Regions from separate parts of the Homo sapiens genome. Here region 1 is reported to be linked to region 2. The links are microRNA targets in miRTarBase. Many come from high-throughput screens and were not tested one by one. Region 2 holds a microRNA gene; the other region holds the end of a gene's coding sequence.

Region 1 (5,067 bases), not on the chromosome of region 2:
CCACCGATGATCCAGTGGAGAAGCTGTGTTGGAGGTCAAGGGATGGAGGCGAAACTGCGCGTTCTCGTCCCTGCAGAAACCGGAATATCCGAGACACATGACGAACATGAAACTTTCTCCTTGTCTCTTGGCTCCCACTCCGCTACACAGATGAACGGTGTTACCTTCCCTCATGTTACTTTGCTAAGCCTACTCCTCAGAGCTGGTCCTTTGCATAACCTCTTCAAATGCTCTCAACTCTCCCTTGCTCCTACATAATGGAGTAATCATAAGTGCAATGAGAAAAGCATGAGATTTGAAGTTCCATAAGTATTGAGTCTAGGTTCTGGTGGTTATTAACTCCATGATCTTAGGAAAGTATCTGTCAGTGTTCTGTGTAAAACGGAAATGCTAATGTGTATTTACCAGGACTTTTTCTTGCGAGAGGCAGATGAAATGTATCTCCGTTTCATGAGTAAGTTCAGAGAATATAAGTGACTTGTCCAAGGTCAGCAAGCTAATGAGTGGGAAAGCTGAGGCTTGAGCCTAGACTGTCAACACCCAGGCCAAAGATTCATTGCCTGCTTTTCATCTTATGGAGTTAAACCTTGATACACACTCAGATCTGCAGTGACTTGACCAGCACTGTGGGTTCATGCTTTACTGTCTGATAACGAATTTTCATTTAATTTTATTTTTTTTCTTAGACAGGGTCTAGCTCTGTCACCTAAACCTGATGAGGGCTGAGCCTTCATTTCGCCGTTTTTTGTTTGTTTGTTTTTGTTTTTGAACGAGATGGACTCTGGCTATGTTGCCAGACTGGAGTGCAGTGGCAAGTCACAGGAGCCATCATAGCGCATTACAGCCTGGAACTTCTCGTCTTCAGGGATCCTCCCAAGTAGCTGGGATTTCAGGCATGTGCCACCATACCTGGCTCTAATTTTGAATTTGTTTCTTTAAATTATTATTTGTGTTTGCTGAAATTGTGTGTGTATTATTTTTGTGTATGTGTGTGAGTAGTTATATGTTACATAAAGTAGGTTGTGGGGTTTTTTCCAGTAATGTTTAGCTATAATTGAAGTTTGGGCCGAAATCTGCTAGTATTTGTTACTCCTCACCAAATCCTACCTTATCTCACAACAAACTGTAAGATCTTGTGATATTTCACTTCCAATAACCTTACCAGGCATCAGAGTGGGGTCTCTACTCTGAAATTAAATATCTGCCATAAGGTATGTTGAAGACGTTAGTCTCTTTCCCAGGAGGCACAAAGTGCAAGTCTTTTCCTCATCGCTTGAGCAAATTAAACCTACCGGACAGTTTACTACAGAACTCAAACACAGCTGGGCGCAGTGGCTCACGCCTGTAATCCCAGCAATTTGGGAGGCCGAGGTGGGCGGATCACCTGAGGTCGGGAGTTCAAGACCAGCCTGACCAACATGGAGAAACCCCGTCTCCACTAAAAATACAGAATTAGCTGGGCATGGTGCCATATGCCTGTAATCCCAGGTACTCGTGAGGCTGAGGCAGGAGAATCACTTGAACCCGGGAGGTAGAGGTTGCGGTGAGCCGAGATCACACCATTGTACTCCAGCCTGGGCAACAAGAGCAAGAATTCATCTCAAAAGAAAAAAAAAAGAACTTAAGCATAAGCCACAAATAAGGTTTATCATTACCTCATCAATGCTTGGATACTTACATTTATCAAGTTATTACATTTTGCTGTGTAAAAAATATTATGTATGGTGAAAGGGGGATATATATATATTATGTATTAAAATATGTATTATATATTATATATTAAACATAATATAATTATATATAATTATATATTAAACATAATATATTATATATTAAATATATAATTATAATATATATTTAATATATATGTATAATATATAATTATATATTATATATAATATGTTATATGTTTATAAACATATACATGTTATATATATTATATATTTCCTATATATTTAATATATAATATATATAATTATACATTGTAATATATAATATAATATAATATATATATACTTAAGGATGCTGTGCATCAAGCCTGAATTTTTTTTTTTTTTTTGAGATGGAGTTTCGCTCTGTCTCCAGGCTGGAGTGTAATGGTGCGAACTCTGCTCACAGTAACCTCTGCCTCCTAGGTTCAAGCGATTCTCCTCCCTCAGCCTCCCAAGTAGCTGGTATTACAGGCACCCACCACCATGCCCAGCTAATTTTTTTTGTATTTTTAGTAGAGATGGGGTTTCGCCATGTTGGCCAGGCTGGTCTCAAACTCCCAACCTGAAGTGATCCACCCACCTCGGCCTCCCAAAGTGCTGGGACTACAGGCATGAAACAACGTGCTCGGCCCAAGCCTGAATTTTCTTTTGCATTTCCAGTAGTTTTGCCATCTTTGTTATTCAGCAAAGAGATGTTTTTGTTTTCGTTTTTGTTTTTTTGAGACAGAGTCTGGCTGTGTCACCCAGGCTGGAGTGCAGTGGTGTGATCTCAACTCACTGCAACCTCTGCCTCCCAGGTTCAAGTGAGTCTCCTGCCTCAGCCTCCCAAGTAGCTGGGACTACAGGCGCCCTCCACCACTCCTGTCTAATTTTTTTTTTTTTTTGTATTTTTAGTAGAGACGGGGTTTCACTATGCTGGCCAGGCTGGTCTTGAACTCCTGTTGTGATCCACCACGCCCAGCCAAAGAGCTGTTTTTGTTAAAGTTTGCTTGTCCCAGGCTGGGCGCAGTGGCTCACGCCTGTAACCCCAGCACTTTGGGAGACTGAGGCAGACTGATCACTCGAGCCCAGGCGTTCAAGACCAGCCTGGCCAACATGACAAAACCCTGTCTCCACTAAAAACACAAAAGTTAGCCAGGTGTGGTGGCACGTGCCTGTAATCCCAGCTACTCGGGAGGCTGAGGCAGGAGAATCGCTTGAACCCGGGAGGCAGAGGTTGCAGTGAGCTGGGATCGTGCCACTGCACTCCAGTCTGGGCGACAGAGCCACACTCGGTCTTAAAAAAGAAAAAAAGTCCTTGTCCCTCTGCTTGTAAGTACCACCAAAGGGCTATATTAACTGACTATTGGCCAGGCATGGTGGCTCACGCCTGTAATCCCAGCTACTTGAGAGGCTGAGGCAGGAGGCAGAGGTTGCAGTGAGCTGAGATCGCACTATTGCACTCCAGCCTCGGAGACAGAGCAAGACTCTGTCCCTAAAAATAAATGAATAAATAAATAAAATAACTGACCATTGTGCCTGGCACTTAGTAGATGCTCAATATACATATATGAATAAATGAACTTCTCATTTTCCTCACTAATAAAAGCAGATATTAATGCCTATCAAATAACTAAATGGATTGCTGGCAGAATCAAAGAAGCTTGCACAAATCACTGGATAAATCACTAGGTGCAGTTATTTCCCTGAGGCTAGGACTGTTAGAGTTCTTCTCGCTGGGAATTTCCTGTGCTCAGGACAAGGCTCTGCCCACAAGGGCATCCGGACCCCATGGCGGAAAGAGGATATCCAGACCTTCAGATCACTCTACCTCCTGCTCTTTGCTATTTTCCTTACCAACAGAACAGCTAGGGAAGAGACAGCAGTAGGATTAGTCCTGGTTCCACAGAAACCGAGCCTGATTTGGGTAAATCAATCACTTTGAAGACACAATAATTGGATTTGAGTGGAGAACAATTCTGACAATAATCCAAGTTACCCAAAACAGGAACATTTGTGCAAATGGTGGCCTTTAATACCAAGAAAGACCATGACAAGTGACAGAACAGGAGCAAATTCCCTAGTGTAGTGCCGAGCTAGCCTTTTGCAGGACCCTAAAACCTGATCTAGTAACAGAATAAATCAGTGTATTTACATTTATGTTTGCCCTGAAAACCCAGGTAAGGTCTGAAGCCTGAGGCATCTCTCCTTCCTTTCCTCCTCCCTCTCTTCCTACCTCCTTGCCTTCTTTCACTTCCTCAATTCATTCCTCTCCCTTCTCCCTTCCTCTCTCTTCCTTTTTTTCCTTTCTGCTTTTCCCTTTTCTCCTTTTTCTCCTCATTCTCTTTACCATCTACCTATGTGACCCTCCAAGCCCCTCTGCTATTTCTCCCCTGCTCACTCCCTCTGCCGTTGTCTCCCTCAGGTTCAGCTTCCGGGGTGGGGAGGCAAGAAAGGGTCCTCAGCCCAGGGAGCACTTGTTGGTGTTCTTCTTGTCACAAGTTTTCAGGTCAGTACTGGGAGGCTTGTTGCCGTTTCCCTAGAGGGAGAAGGGCACAGGTGTCATGGTGTGAATGGATGGTTAGGGTAGGAGGGTATAAACTGTTTAAAGTAAATCCACCCTCATGAGAAATCTTAGCATTGCTCCCCGTTTTTATCAACACCAACACACACACACACACACACACACACACACACATACATACACACACACACACCCCAGAGTTGTACCTAGTCCAGCAAAACCAACTTACTGATCTCCGGCCTCCTGACTTGAGCAAGATGTCCCGGGCCAGGGAACTAAAAGCCTAAAGTGGGGAACAGAGTCAGTTTGGAGGGAGGAGAATCTACCTTCTAATACTTCCTCTCTTGGTCGGGGATGGGGGTGTGGATCTCACCTCATCCACATTCATACTGGATTTAGCACTAGTTTCGAAAAATCGGATTCCATGCTCTCGAGCCAACTATAAGGGGTGAAGTGGGAAGAGAATTGAATTAAGGACAGCAGCCAAGTCCTCTGCAATGCAACCTATCTTGGCCCTCCCAGCCCAGTTCTAGAACATTGCTCAGCCTGGCCCTCACCTTATCGGCCTGCTCCTTCTGCACCTTCCTCTTGGCCTCCATGTCACATTTGTTCCCCAGCAAGAGGCGCTCCACCCCAGCCGAGGCATTCTGGGGGCAAAAGACAAGTAAAAGTTAGGTCCTGCCGGCTGGGAGCGGTGGCTCACGCCTGTAATCCCAGCACTTTGGGAGGCCAAGGCGGGTGGATCACCTGATGCAGGAGTTCAAGATCAGCCTGACCAACATGGAGAAAACCCGTCTCTACTAAAAATGCAAAATTAGCCGAGCATGGTGGTGCATGCCTGTAATCCCAGCT
Region 2 (5,073 bases):
CTGGCCACGACAGCTTCCCTGAACCTCCATCTCATTTAGGGAGCAATGAAACTTGACTTGCTCCTCAGTTATAACCATCCTCACCTAAACCACAGAACACAGAGGATACCTCACGCAAATGCTTCCTCCCTTCTCCCCAGGATGGTACCTGATCACCCATCTCATCCTAGGAGGGAGTGATGAAGCCATCACATAGGATGCCTGCCTCAGGGCATCAGGGTTTCATTCTGTCAAGACAGGCTGGTATGGAGGAGGTGAGCATCACAATTCAACAATACCCTGCAGGTTCCCTGGGGAGCCAAAAGAGGCATTAAACATGGAGGGAGCAGAGGCAGGAGCAAGGGGGCTCAGTGGGAGTCCAGAGAAGGATGTGGGTACAGCAGAGGCCAACAGAAAAACAGCAACCTACTCTATGCTCCCCCTTTACTGCTCTTTCATTTGTGATGCAAAGATGAGGAAAATCAGGTAAGCACTTTGTACCAATGCATTTCTCTCCACAAATGTAAAATACAATTAAACATTCCAGGTACTGATTTTCAAATTGCCATGTATTATATAGTTTCCCTCAAGAAAACCATGTACATTTGGTGTTCATTCCTGGTGTTTTAGAAATAACAATGATAGTTCTTTCTAAAACATTTGAATTTATACCACTGTGATGTTATGATCCCATTTATGCTATTACATGTCTCATAGGCAAACATTTCTTAAATGTTTAGTTTTCAGACAAAAAAGAAAGGAAAGCACTGATGAGTTCCCCTTCTAAGTGAAACCTTCCAATGCCTCTTAGCTCAAGGGAAAGGAAGGGGAAAGAAACTTTGTTGCTTCCAGCAGCAAACAGAGAGGTCAACCTACCAAGCTATAGGGCCAGGCATTGAGCCCTGAACCAGAGAAGCCTTAGAGCCAACTTTGTCCTGCTGCTTTCCCTTGAATATGCCATTTTATTTCCCTGGACCACGGTTTCCTCATCTGTAGAATATAAAGTCCCTTTCAGCTATCAAGGTGCATGCTCTGCTTCAGTATCTGTAAAGTAGAAATACTACTTGCCTCCAACTCTTAGGAAGATAAAGACTAAAAAAGAAATGTTTGGACAAGGCTTTAAGATTACATAATGAAATGGATATAAATAAGACTCATACAGTCACACAGCTAACAGAGACCATAAAGATCTGTCCAGCTAAAGTGAAACGGAACTCTCAATGCACGGGAGGAGACAGCTGGCAGTAGTCTTCTTTTTTAATTTAACTTAATTTTTTTAGAGACAGAGTCTCTCGTTCTGTCACCCAGGCTGCAGTGTAGTGGCAAAATCATAGCTCACTGCAGTCTCAACCTCCCAGGCTCAAGAGATCCTCTCACCTCAGCCTCCTGAGCACCTTGGACTACAGGTGAGTGCGCCATCACAACCAGCTGATTTCTTATTTTTATTTTTTAGAGATGGGGTCTTGCTATGCTGCCTAAGCTGGTCTTGAACTCCTGGGCTCAAGCAATCCTCCTACCTCGGCCTCCCAAAGTGCTGGGATTACAGGCATGAGCCACTGTGCCCAGCCAGGTCATTTTTATGCCACTTTCTTCAGGGCTTCCTGTGGCTAAGAGGGAAAGTAGACTGATAGCATGGATGAGGTGACAGCCCAGGCACTGGCCCCAGGCTTTCTGAGGGACAGCCGGCATTAGGTTTTTCTCCATGCACTGTCCTACAGGTATAGAATTCATGTCCTCCACTGGTGTACATTGCAGACTAAATAAAACATGTCATATAACAACCTCCTTTCCAAAGCTAAACTCCAGGCATGCCTGAGTTCAAGAGGTCACCCAGCAGGGAAGCTCCACTGTCTGGTGAGAAGAGGGCCTCCACTGCTAGGCAGTGGCAAGAAGCCATGCCGGTTACCTCCTCTGAGCCTTCCTTTTCTCATCTGTCAAATGGGGACAGTAGTAGATCCTACATTATAGGGATGTGTGGAGGATTTTAAATGAGTACTGATGCACGTTAAGCCCTCAGAACAGTGCTTGGCACACACCCAGAGTTTGGTAGATGCTACCTAACATCAATATTGACATTAATTCTAGAACTATGTAGAGGATACGACTTCAATAAGAAAACAATCAGTCAGAAGCAGTGGCAGAAGGGAGGGTCCTGAAATCCAGAGTCCTCCTGCAGAGATGCAGCTGCCACTCCTCGCCTCTGACACTTGCAGACATTCGGAGAGAAAGCCGTCTGCAAGGTGACAGAGGGCGGACTGGAAGAACACAAGGAACCCAGGGATGCTGATGGAGCATGGAAAACCGCAGCAGAAGGCACTGAGGCAAGGTGTGCCCTCCAGGCGGGGCAGGCTGTGGCTGGGCAGAGCGCCTGCCAGGGAGAAGTAGGGCAAAGGGAAGAAAGCACCTGTGGGAGAAACATGGGGAAACAAGGAAGAAACCTGCATATGCACGGGAGCACAAATAAGGAAGGAGATGGGAGAACTGGGTGGAGGCAGATGGCAAACGTGGGGGCCAAGGGAGGTAGATGAGAATTAGGATATGGGATAATAAGACAAAGCCACATGAAACTCTAAAGTGCGGGAGGAGGGCAGAGAACAGGGAGGGTGCATGACAGGCACCCCGAGAATAATGCAGTGAGGAAGTTTGCAAGACGGGGGAGGGGGACATTAGGAAAAAAGGAGAATTTGTTGGGAAAGGTGGAAAAAGAAAAGGAGTGAGATTTCTCCGCCTGTTAGCAAGGGGAATAAAGGAGAGCAAATCGCTGGGTGACCAGGAAAGGTTCACAGAGAAGAAAACACGAGGCAGCAAAAACCGAAGGTGGGGACAGAGAAAATGCTGGCAGGGGGAGGTGCATAATATAAGGCTATGGGAAGCCATGGGAACAAGAGCTGAATAAATTCACAGTATTATTCTATTTATCCACATCCCTATGCAATGCTGGGAAGCAAATGACCCACAGGGTTTTGTTTGCTTGCTTTGGTTTGGTTTTCCTGCACTTGGAGGGAGGGGAAATTTGCTCAAGCTCTGTAACCTTGCAGTCAGATGGGTGGCCCAGCCCAAGTCACCCGAGCTCCCCCTGACGCTGGCAGCAGCGCGGGCTTCTACCTGCCTGGGGCTGGAGTACCAATTCCCCCACCTCCTGCACAGAATGGGACCAAACCAACTCCGCCAATGCATTCCCTGCAGTCCACAGACGATGGGCACCGGGTCCCAAAATCTTTCCCCTGGGACGAGACTCCGCTGGTACCAAGAGAAACTTGCTTTCTAAACTAAGCTCTCCAACCGCATCGCTCCGGGTCCCCGGAGGCACCAGCCACGCCACCCGATGGAGCAGAGCGTTACAGGGCTCCGCCGCGCCAGGCTCCCCAGACTCTGCCACCCCCACGGCCGCCCCTGTAGGCCAGGCCCCGCGAGCTGGGAGCGCGGGTGAAGTTACAAGGCGACCTCCCTGCAGGCTTCCGGCTGGAAACGGCCTTTTGCGAGAACACCACGTGCATGTCCTCCCAAAAGCGATGGTGCCGGGTGGCCCAGAGGGCGCAGAGCCACCGCCGGGCAGGGAGCGGGCGCACGGACCTAACAGGTGAGCACCCGGTAGCCTCCACCGGCGGGGGAAGCAGAGGCCAAGCAGCTGGGAGCTGGACATCCCGAAGCCCCGAGGCAGTCCACTGGGACTCAAATCCTCCCGATATTCTACCTAACAGCCCATGCCCGCGCCCGCCCGGCAGAGCCGCGCGCCCGAAGCCGTCTTACCTCCTGCGGCGCCTCTTGGCGGAGCCTACAAAGTCAGCGTGTCCAACACGTCCCTGCCCTCAGAGCCACCTCCGGTGCCGGCGGAGCCCCGAGGTCGCCGCACTCTCGGAGGAGCCTGGGATCCAGTGCGCGCCCTCGGAGCTAGCGACCGGCAGGGCGATCGCGGGAGAAAGCGCAACGCACACTCTCCTCCCGCGCCGCGGCAGCACACTCAGCCAAGCCACGCCCCAGCCCCGCTCCCCACCAGGCCACGCCCCCAGCCCGGCTCTTCCCCCCGCCCCATATCAGGCCACGCCCCCGGTTAGCTCACTCCCTCAGGCCACACCCTCGGCCACGCCCCCACACTACCAACCACAGCCGGGGACCCCACCCATCAAAAACAGTTCCCCGGCCAGGCGCAGTGGCTCTTGCCTGTAATCCTAGCACTTTTGGAGGCCGAGGTGGGCGGATCACCTGAGGTCAGGAATTTGAGAGCAGCTTGGCCAACATGGTGAAACCCCGTCTCTAATAAAAATAAAAATTAACCGGGCGTGGTGACAGGCGCCTGTGATCCCAGCTACTCAGGAGGCTAAGGCAGGAGAATCACTTGAACCCGAGAGGCGGAGGTTGCAGTGTGCCGAGATCGCGCCACTGCACTCCAACCTGGAGGACACAGCCAGACTCCGTTTTTTAAAAAAAGAAACAAACAAAAATAGTTCCCTCAGCCACCAGCCAGCCCCCACCCCCCAGGGCGGGAAGAGGAGTCTCATCTCCGGGGCAACCGTGCCCCACTGCCCACTGCCTGGGCCAGAAGTTCACTCCCTGTGAAAGGAAAACGCAGGGTAGGGATTTTTAAACCTACATGTTTCCCAGGGCCTGGGGCAAGTCTTGAGTAGACTGTTGCAGTAAACCGACTCAAAGGCCTATCACCTTTCTTGTGAGGCTCAAGGCCTAATCATTAATTGACATGAAAACCACAGAAGAGAAGCAAACCCTTCTGTGCTGGGATCTGTGCCCCAGTGCTCCATGTTCCCTGATAGGCAGCTAATGGAATTCATAAAATAAATGCATGCTTTCTACCAGTGTAGTTTTTTAGATGATTCATTTAGTGGCCAGCACTATTATTTATAAATGTCTATTGTCTTTTATAATCAAAGAACAATACCCACAATCTGTAAAATAAAAAACAAAAATTATATTACCCAATGAAAAGTGAAAATTAATTTTATGTATGTTTTTTAAAATATTGAAAAAACTCTGTATGACATTATAATGGTGGCTTCATGTCATTATGCATTTCTCAAAACTCACAGAATGAACAGCATGCGGCGTGAGCCTCCTGTAAGTAATGGACTTAGTTCATCT

What was found. Region 2 holds the annotated microRNA hsa-miR-2276-5p (GCCCUCUGUCACCUUGCAGACG, at 2,210-2,231, opposite strand). A microRNA usually pairs through its seed, bases 2 to 8, with sites in the 3' UTR of a target mRNA and lowers its output. Matches are read on the target gene's strand: a 7mer-m8 pairs with bases 2 to 8, a 7mer-A1 pairs with bases 2 to 7 and ends in A, and an 8mer does both.
Region 1: the mRNA of RAB13 is a reported target of hsa-miR-2276-5p. Seed matches in the 3' UTR shown: 8mer at 4,093-4,100, 7mer-m8 at 4,067-4,073 and 7mer-A1 at 3,913-3,919.

Annotation. Positions count from the first base shown.
Region 1 is chr1:153,977,947-153,983,013 of GRCh38, forward strand. It overlaps RAB13 (RAB13, member RAS oncogene family), which reads right to left. Exons shown (of 8, transcript NM_002870.5): 5 at 4,773-4,862; 6 at 4,589-4,654; 7 at 4,445-4,498; 8 at 3,704-4,230. The coding sequence ends at 4,153. It overlaps JTB-DT (JTB divergent transcript), which reads left to right. Exons shown (of 1, transcript NR_186180.1): 1 at 1-1,214. Among named protein-coding and RNA genes, the nearest start is that of JTB-DT, 2.7 kb to the left of the region's middle. RefSeq lists a silencer at 1-201.
Region 2 is chr13:24,159,589-24,164,661 of GRCh38, reverse strand. It overlaps MIR2276 (microRNA 2276), which reads right to left and starts at 2,246; the gene lies at 2,158-2,246. It overlaps SPATA13 (spermatogenesis associated 13), which reads right to left and starts at 3,942. Exons shown (of 13, transcript NM_001166271.3): 1 at 3,730-3,942. RefSeq lists a silencer at 3,992-4,051.